3 separate regions of the Homo sapiens genome follow, and regions 1 and 2 are each linked to region 3. The links come from fine-mapping of genetic effects on gene expression. A gene starts in region 3. Each other region holds a variant in brackets. All regions are shown on one strand. Distances are from middle to middle. Region 1 overlaps FLVCR2 (FLVCR choline and putative heme transporter 2). Region 2 overlaps FLVCR2 (FLVCR choline and putative heme transporter 2). Region 3 holds the start of FLVCR2 (FLVCR choline and putative heme transporter 2).

Region 1 (2,672 bases), 37 kb after region 3:
GGGTTGATGGGCTTACAGTAATCCAATGTGTGAAAGTCTAGATTGAACCTCAATGTATCTTTTATGAGGCTCTTATTTTAAAAGGATCCTCAACCATGCTTTTTAAAGTATCAAACTTTCTCTGAGAACCTTGTCTAGACTTAAATTTCCAACCACATCTTTCCACAGTTCTGGGCTCACATGACAAATGTGCAGTGGCAATGGTGCTTTCCTGACATGCCAGTTAACTGCAGCTCATTCTTTCAACAACCATGTATTGAGTAAGCGCCAGACTAGCAAGTATCAGGAAAATGACTGACAACCCAAAGATTAGAGGAAGTTAGAGCAAGGCAATCACGCCTAGTGAGGATCGTCAAGGAAAGCTCTGTGAGAGAATTCACATGGTGATGGGCTCTGAAAGATTAAAAAGGGGATAACTTGGGATAAAGGTATAGACGAGATGATGGGAAGGTTGGAATCATGACTTGTTCAATCTGGCTGGAATATAGGGGATTTATAGGGATACAGAAGAGAAGGGTCTGGAAAGGAAGGTTGAAACTAGCAAAGACAGCTGTATTAGTCTGTTTTCACGCTGTGATAAAGAACTGCTTGAAACTGGGTAATTTATAAAGAAAAGAGGTTTAATTGACTCACTGCTCCAAATGGCTAGGGAGGCCTCAGGAAACTTACAATCATGGTGGAAGGGGAAACAGGCACATCTTACATGGTGGTAGGCAAGAGAGCGAGAGAGAGAGCGTCTGAAGGAGGAACTGTCAAACATTTTTCTAACCATCAGGTCTTGTGAGAACTCACTACCATGAGAATACCATGGGAGAAACTGCCCCCATGATCCAGTCACCTCCCACCAGGCCCCTTCCTTGGCACATGGGGATTACAATTCGAGATGAGATTTTGGTGGGGACACAGAGCCAAACCAAATCAATGGCTAAGAACAGTAGCTGAGGGGTTTGGACCTGCTTCCTTCCTCTGAGAGGGCTGACACCTTGAAGTTCTTTAAGCAGGGACGGTGGGGTCAATGCAACGCCAAGGACCATGAATGTGAGTACATCATGCAGGTCGGGCAGAGGAGAGATCACAGTTGCCTGGGAGAAAGGCAGAAAGGTCCGAAGTGGGACAGGGCAGATTCAAAGAGGACTTTGCAGAAGGGTTTGGGAGGATCTGAGACGAAGTGCATATAAGAGGGCAGAGTCAAAGATGACTAAGAT[A/T]ATTGAGGAAGGACACGCAGATGGAGCCAGAGAAGGAAGTGAAGCAGAACCAGGGTAGGATGATGGTTTGTATGACTTCCCCAAATAAACCAAGTGCATCTTGGGAGTCCCAGTGGCCTCTGCTGCCTGTCACCTCTGCTGTGTGAGAGTGTGTGGGAAAGGGCCAACCCTGCAGACAGGGAGTGAGCCTCAGCCCGATGAGCTAGGTGGTATTTTCTTCCTCTTGTGGATTAGGAAACACACAGAGAGGTCAATTAACTTGCCAAGCTCTAGTAACTGGTAGGGCCGAGATTTGAATTGAGATCTTTCTGACCCCTGACCCTGAGCCCTTAAGCACTATATTAGTATGATGATGTCTCTGAGGAATGTTGAAGCAGAAAGGAGAAGTGGGAGATTCATTTAAAAAAGCATAAGGCCGGCTGGGCGTCATGGCTCATGCCTATAATCCCAGCATTTTGGGAGGCCGAGGCGGGCGGATCACAAGGTCAGGAGATTGAGACCATCCTGGCTAACACATGAAACCCTGTCTCTACTAAAAATACAAAAAAAAAAAAAAATTAGCCAGATGTGGTGGCGGGAACCTGTAATCCCAGCTACTCGGGAAGCTGAGGCAGGAGAATGGCATGAACCCGGGAGATGGAGCTTGCAGTGAGCCGAGATCGTGCCACTGCACTCCAGCCTGGGTGACAGAGTGAGACTCCATCTCAAAAAAAAAAAAAAAAAAAAAATAGCGTAAGTCCAGTTATGGTGGCTCATACCTGTAATCTCAATATTTTGGGAAGCTGAGATGGGAAGACCACTTGAGACCAGCCTAGGCAACATAGTGAGAGACCCCAATTCCACAAAAAATTAAAAAATCAGCCAGGCATGGTGTCATGATCCTGTAGTTCCAGCTACTTGGGAGGCTGAGGCAGGAGAATTGCTTGAACCCAGGAGGCGGAGGTTGCAGTGAGCCAAGATTGCGCCACTGCACTCCAGCCTGGCGACAGAGTGAGACTCTGTCTCAAAAAAAAAAAATTTTTTTTAATTTAAAAAATAAAAATAGCATAGCATGGGCATGAGGCAAGCCCCAGATTAGGTCATAAAGGGACCAAATTTGATGGAAGCCTTCAGCCTCAGGGACTCTGGTGCAAAGAAAGCAGCTGGCTCAATAAAGGGATACATACATATATATATTTTTTAATTGATACATGGCATTTTACATGTTTATGGAGTATGGACTTTTTTGACTCAGCACTAGGAAGATAGCTCCTGAGAGCTCTGAAATCTAAGGGAACATGTCCAGCCATACCCAGTGATTATGCCCAGGGGAGAGGAATGAGCCAATTGGTTTGAGCAAATTGGGGCCCAGCCCTAGGGGTGAGGGTGGGCTTGCCTTTGTCTGAATAGCACAGCACGTTGGGAGAGGAATGAGTTTCAGTAGGTGAGAACCTGTTTGTGGAGGTTGTTGTCTCCTAACAGGAGCAG
Region 2 (2,672 bases), 32 kb after region 3:
GGATGCAGCAATGAATGGGAAAGGGAAGGTCCCTGTTGGCAATAGCCCTCTGTTCTTGTAGAGTTCACATTGAAGGGAAGAGAGATTACACTATAAGCCAGTCACACCGGAGCGGCTAATGGTGCAAATGTCAGCCCAAGTAGGAGGGCGGGTGACTTCAAAGCAGGATATTAGGAGATGTTTTTAGCTAAGCAGGTCCCTGAGTAACTCCCTAAATAACAGGGCCAGATCTAATGGTGCTGCAATCTCTCTCTTTCTCTCTCTCAGGGCGTTATAGATGTGAGTGACTAATAGTTTTTTTGGTGTAAGCTTGAGATTTCTTTTTCTTTCCAGCTGTCTGTCTGGGATCCTGAGGCAAGCTTAGTTAACTTATGAAGTTGGCTTCTTAGGAAAAAGCTACATGGGTCCCATCCTATCTATTTCTTGAAGTGCATGCTCCAGAGGAACTGGGTTTTGCCCATGGCAGTCCATGAAGCAGCAACTCTTCCAGGGCCTGCCAGTAAGTAATTGGCAGGGTTTTACCCCTGAAAAAATCAGAATAGGAGGGCTATTACCAGAAAGTCCATCCAGATTTAGAAGGAAACATGGGAGGATTAGAAACATTGGTCGTCACGTGAGCATCCCTTTTAGGAATGCCAGAATGTTGCCTTGCAGACAAAGGAGACAATTATTCTCCTTTGGGCTGTTTTATCTGTCAAAGGTCAGGGAGTGGCACCTTTGAGTTGGGGGGGATAGATGGGGGGTTAGTGTTAAGGGAATGCAGAAGACCGGAGAATCCCTCTGTTGGCTGTTGATTGCTGGTGTCTGGGACAGAATTGGTGGGCAATCAGTGCCAAAGCATTTGAATGGCGCTTTGCACATCGCCTACTTCAAATGTGAAAACTTTGGAGTAAGATTTGCATGATGTGATCTGATGTGATCTCAGCTGGCCGGGTGGTTTGAAAGACACCCACTCATTTTTCCTCCTTCCTAGCCGAGTCATGGGGAAGTTCTGTGACCACTGGCTTTCAGCACAGTCAGCTAGAGGGACATTAATGTATTGAGGTGACAGTGATTTGTTCTCTCACTGAAAGAAAAGGCAGTGGATTCTTCACTTCTGCACCCAAAGTAGACCTAGGCTGGCCCTTTGTGGAGTTCACCATGAGGACAACTTCAAGGGGAACACCAAGTCCTTAAAAGGAGGAGTGTGTGCCAGGAAGCTCCTGAGTTCATGATGACAGAAAGCAAGCATAAATACCGGGCTTAGCTAAAAAAATAAAACACGGCCTTTGTCAGTGTTC[C/CT]TTTTTTTTTCTTTAATCAGAAAACTTTCCTTGTGAAACTCATTTTCTTCACCTAAACTTAGCAACTTCTCTGTTTACAGCCTAGTGTATCTCTGCTCTTCAGCTAACTTGCACCCCCCACAAAGATGAGGAGGAAACCCAACACCAAGGCTGTAGGTCAAGATCAAGGTATATTACATTATAAACCGGGTGAGAGTGAGCTCCTTGTCTTGCATCTTTCTCTTCCCTTCTGAGTAGGGTGCCTAGTATGCAGCAGGTGCTCAATAAATACTGAGTGTAGGTCTAAGAGTGAGAAGTTGATTGGTCTGCATTCGAATCCCCTCCATGCCTGATCTTGGGGCACCCCAAATGAGAGGTCTTCCCTGTCTGGGGGCTTCCTTAGGTCATTTCATCTGGCATCTACTCGCTTTGGGTGGTTAAACTCTTACAATGCAGCAAACTGCTACTGTGCCCAACTTGTTTACTGCAGAGCAGCCTGGAAAGACTTGAGTGAGGTTTGAGCTGCACAGTTCTAAGAGTTATTTCTTCACTCAGAAAATATTTCCTGAGTGCTGTCTCTGTTCTTGTGATTGTGTCAGACGTGGTATGCGGGAGGGTCACATGAGCAAATGTGAGTCAATGTCCCTGTCCTCAAGGTACTAACAGTTTAGTTTGGGAGACAACACACTACACAAAAAGAAACAAAACTAAGCATGACATAAAAACAAGAAACCTGTAAAGTGTAACTGTGGCAAAGAAACCAAACTGTAGCTGGAGACACCTCTCACCCTTGCTTCCTCCGACAGCTACACATTTGGGGACATTTGAACTACAGAATGGAGCATATGAGACTGGAGGGAGTGTCGGGTGTGAGGGCAGTCACTTTTCTGTGGCATTCACCTTGTCCGTTGAGGGCTTTGGAATCAGATAGCCAAGGGTATGAATCTCAGTTTTGCCAGGAGAAGCTGTTTTGACCTTGGGCAAATTATAGAGGCTTTCTCATCTGTAAAAACCAAACCAGAGGCCAAGGCACAGTGGCTCATGCCTGTAATCCCAGCGCTTTGGGAGGCCGAGGCAGGTGAATTGCTTGAGCCCAGGAGTTCGAGACCAACCTGGGCAACATGGTGAAACCCCGTCTCTCCTAAAAATACAAAAAATTAGCCAGGTGTGTTGGGCGCATGTCTGTGGTCGCAGCTACTTGGGAGGCCGAGGTGAGAGGATTGCTTGAGCCAGGGAAGTAGAAGCTTCAGTGAGCCGAGATCGCACCACTGCACTAGCCTGGGCAACAGAGTGAGACCCTGTCTCACAAACAAACAAACAAACAAACAAAAAAACCCACAAACAAAACCCAAACCAGAGATGATGGTGCCAACTTCAGGGGGTAGTTGTGAGGGCATAGATGAAATATCATGT
Region 3 (2,672 bases):
CTCTTCTTGCCAGCTGGGACCTTCAGAAAGAAGTTACTTCACTTCTCTGAGTCTGGGTTTTCTTGTCTATAAAATTTAGGCCAGCAATAGTAACTTTATCACAGAATTCTTGTGATGCATAAATGAGCTAATGCATTCAATTTGTTTAGCACTGTACAACAAATGTTAGCTTTTTGCTAGGATAGCCAGCATTCGCGGAATGCTTACTATGTGGCAGGAATTTTCTAAGTGCATTCGTGTATTAATTCATTCAAGTCTCAGAACAACACGGTGAGGTAGGTACTATTATTTCATCATTTCCATTTTACAGATGAAGAAACTGAAGCGCAGAGAGGTGGAGTTCCTTGGTCTACAGTGGCACCTCATTGTAGCTAAGCTGGTGTTTGAACTCAGGGAGAATTTGGGCTCCTTACCAGGATCCCTCGCCAAGGACAGAGGTCAGTGCAACGAGTCGAGGGTTTGCCCTTTGAAATGGGCTAGGACCGGCAGGTGGCAGACTAGGGCTGCTTGAGTTCAAAGACCGCTTCCAAGACCAAGCCCGGAGCCAGCTCTGTGCTAAGCGTTCCATCACACAACCGCGGACAGCTTCTTCGGCTTCTTCAAACTCTCCTTTCCCTCCCCCGCACCCTAGGGTCTTCGCCCAGAATCCATCAGGAAAAATAGCCCCACATAACAGGTTCAAATCTAACCTCCCCAAGACAAAACCACGTCCGCAGGGAAAGAAGCGAGTAAAGCGAGTTTTCTGTAACTCCCCTTTAACCCAGGAGCGCAACCAGCCCGGGAAATCTACAAATCTCTCTTTAGTTCAGCAAAGGGCTGGGAGCCTAAGCCAAGGGGGAGAAAGTTGGGGAATCCCTCTTGAATTCCCCAGAACACTTAGGTGGCGCCGGGCTTTGGTGCACGCGCGCAGGGCATGCGGACAGGCACCGGAGAGGCTCTATTTTGGGCATTACTTCGGGAAGGCGGATCTTCTTGCAGGGTCCGCTGATAGCGGGTGGCAAATGAATATGAGGGGCAGTGCAAAGGGTGGGGGTTAACCGGGCGGTTTCCATGGCGCCCGGGGCGTGGGGGAGGAATGCATCCCGCAAGCTGTGGCGAAACAACTGCTCTGCCCGGAGGACCGGGCTCGAGAAGGCAAGAGACACTGGGTCGGGGGTGGAGTGGTGGCGGGGGGGTTGGGGGCGGAAGAAGCCAGGCAGGACGGGGGCGGGGCGGTCACGTGTGCCCGACTGGGCGAGGCCCCAAGCTGGCCCGGGAGAGGACTCTGCGGGCGAAGTGGCTGCGCAAGGAGAGAACTTTTCCTGCACAAGGAACGCCTCGTGGGGAGACCCAAGGCAGGAGCGGTCCGGAGCCGGCTGCGGCGTGTGCGGCCGGCCTTGGGACAGCGATCGCCGCGGGTGGCAACAGAGAGCCCCAAGCAAAAGTGGGAGCAGGAGCTTGGAGGTGAGCACAGGAAGCCCCACTTGAGGCTTTTACGCAGCCTCTAGTCTCTGTTTCTTCTGGAATAGGCAAGTGTCCTTTCAACTCTAAGAGACCAGCAGAGGCCACTGTCCCTTAAGACTGCCGGAGTCCTCACCACTTCTCCAGGATTCCAGAGGAGACTGTGGCGATGGTGAATGAAGGTCCCAACCAGGAAGAGAGCGATGACACCCCTGTGCCGGAGTCCGCACTCCAAGCGGACCCCAGCGTCTCGGTCCATCCCAGCGTCTCGGTCCATCCCAGCGTCTCCATCAACCCCAGCGTCTCTGTCCACCCCAGCAGTTCGGCCCACCCCAGTGCCTTAGCCCAACCCAGTGGCTTGGCTCACCCCAGTAGCTCGGGCCCTGAGGACCTCAGCGTGATCAAGGTGAGCAGGCGCCGTTGGGCCGTGGTCCTGGTGTTTAGCTGCTACTCCATGTGCAACTCCTTTCAGTGGATCCAGTACGGCTCCATCAATAACATCTTCATGCACTTCTACGGTGTCAGTGCCTTTGCCATTGACTGGCTGTCCATGTGCTACATGCTGACTTACATCCCTCTGCTCCTGCCAGTGGCTTGGCTGCTGGAGAAGTTCGGCCTGCGCACCATTGCTCTCACTGGCTCGGCTCTCAACTGCCTGGGGGCCTGGGTGAAGCTGGGCAGCCTGAAGCCGCATCTCTTTCCGGTCACCGTGGTGGGCCAGCTCATCTGCTCTGTGGCCCAGGTTTTCATCCTGGGCATGCCCTCCCGCATCGCTTCCGTCTGGTTCGGGGCTAATGAGGTTTCAACAGCCTGCTCCGTGGCTGTCTTTGGCAATCAGGTAGGTAGAACAGTTTGTGAATGTTCCCAGGGGCGTGTGTTAGATTGCACCTAACTATTGGGTGTGGTAGGCTATAATTTGCTGATTGTCCAACAGTGTTTGTGACTCTGGGTGACAGTAACTGGGTGTGACAGGCAGTGATTGTGATGCTGTAAGAGAGGCGGGAAACAAAAGCAGGGGGACCTGCTCTTTCATCCACAGTTGCTCTTGCCCCAGCCAAAAGCATGCTTCTAGAACATACTATACCTTCGCTGTGTCGTTCTCGAACCTGTGTCAGTCCACCAACTTAGACCTGTAATTTCAGGAATGCTCTTCTGTCTGGCAGCAGCCCCTGGGCATCAGACTATTCTGGTGTCATCAGAACTTGGCAGTGCTTTCAGTTGGACCAACCAGC

What was found. PIP is the estimated chance that this variant, and not a neighbour inherited with it, causes the effect.
Region 1: its variant is fine-mapped to the expression of FLVCR2 in blood mononuclear cells (TOPMed, PIP above 0.99). The same link has a PIP of 0.9 or more in T cells, monocytes and whole blood.
Region 2: its variant is fine-mapped to the expression of FLVCR2 in whole blood (INTERVAL, PIP 0.98).

What each region holds. Positions count from the first base shown.
Region 1 is chr14:75,614,116-75,616,787 of GRCh38, forward strand. All of the region lies in intron 1 of FLVCR2 (FLVCR choline and putative heme transporter 2), which reads left to right. Among named protein-coding and RNA genes, the nearest start is that of FLVCR2-AS1, 36 kb to the left of the region's middle. The variant A/T (reference allele first, on the strand shown) is at 1,206.
Region 2 is chr14:75,609,172-75,611,843 of GRCh38, forward strand. The region is part of intron 1 of FLVCR2 (FLVCR choline and putative heme transporter 2); the gene reads left to right. It also overlaps the pseudogene RNA5SP387. Among named protein-coding and RNA genes, the nearest start is that of FLVCR2-AS1, 31 kb to the left of the region's middle. The variant C/CT (reference allele first, on the strand shown) is at 1,281.
Region 3 is chr14:75,577,364-75,580,035 of GRCh38, forward strand. It overlaps FLVCR2 (FLVCR choline and putative heme transporter 2), which reads left to right and starts at 1,257. Exons shown (of 10, transcript NM_017791.3): 1 at 1,257-2,278. The coding sequence starts at 1,610. FLVCR2-AS1 (FLVCR2 antisense RNA 1) reads right to left here and starts at 2,225. Exons shown (of 3, transcript NR_110552.1): 1 at 414-2,225. RefSeq lists an enhancer at 363-422 and a silencer at 1,133-1,202.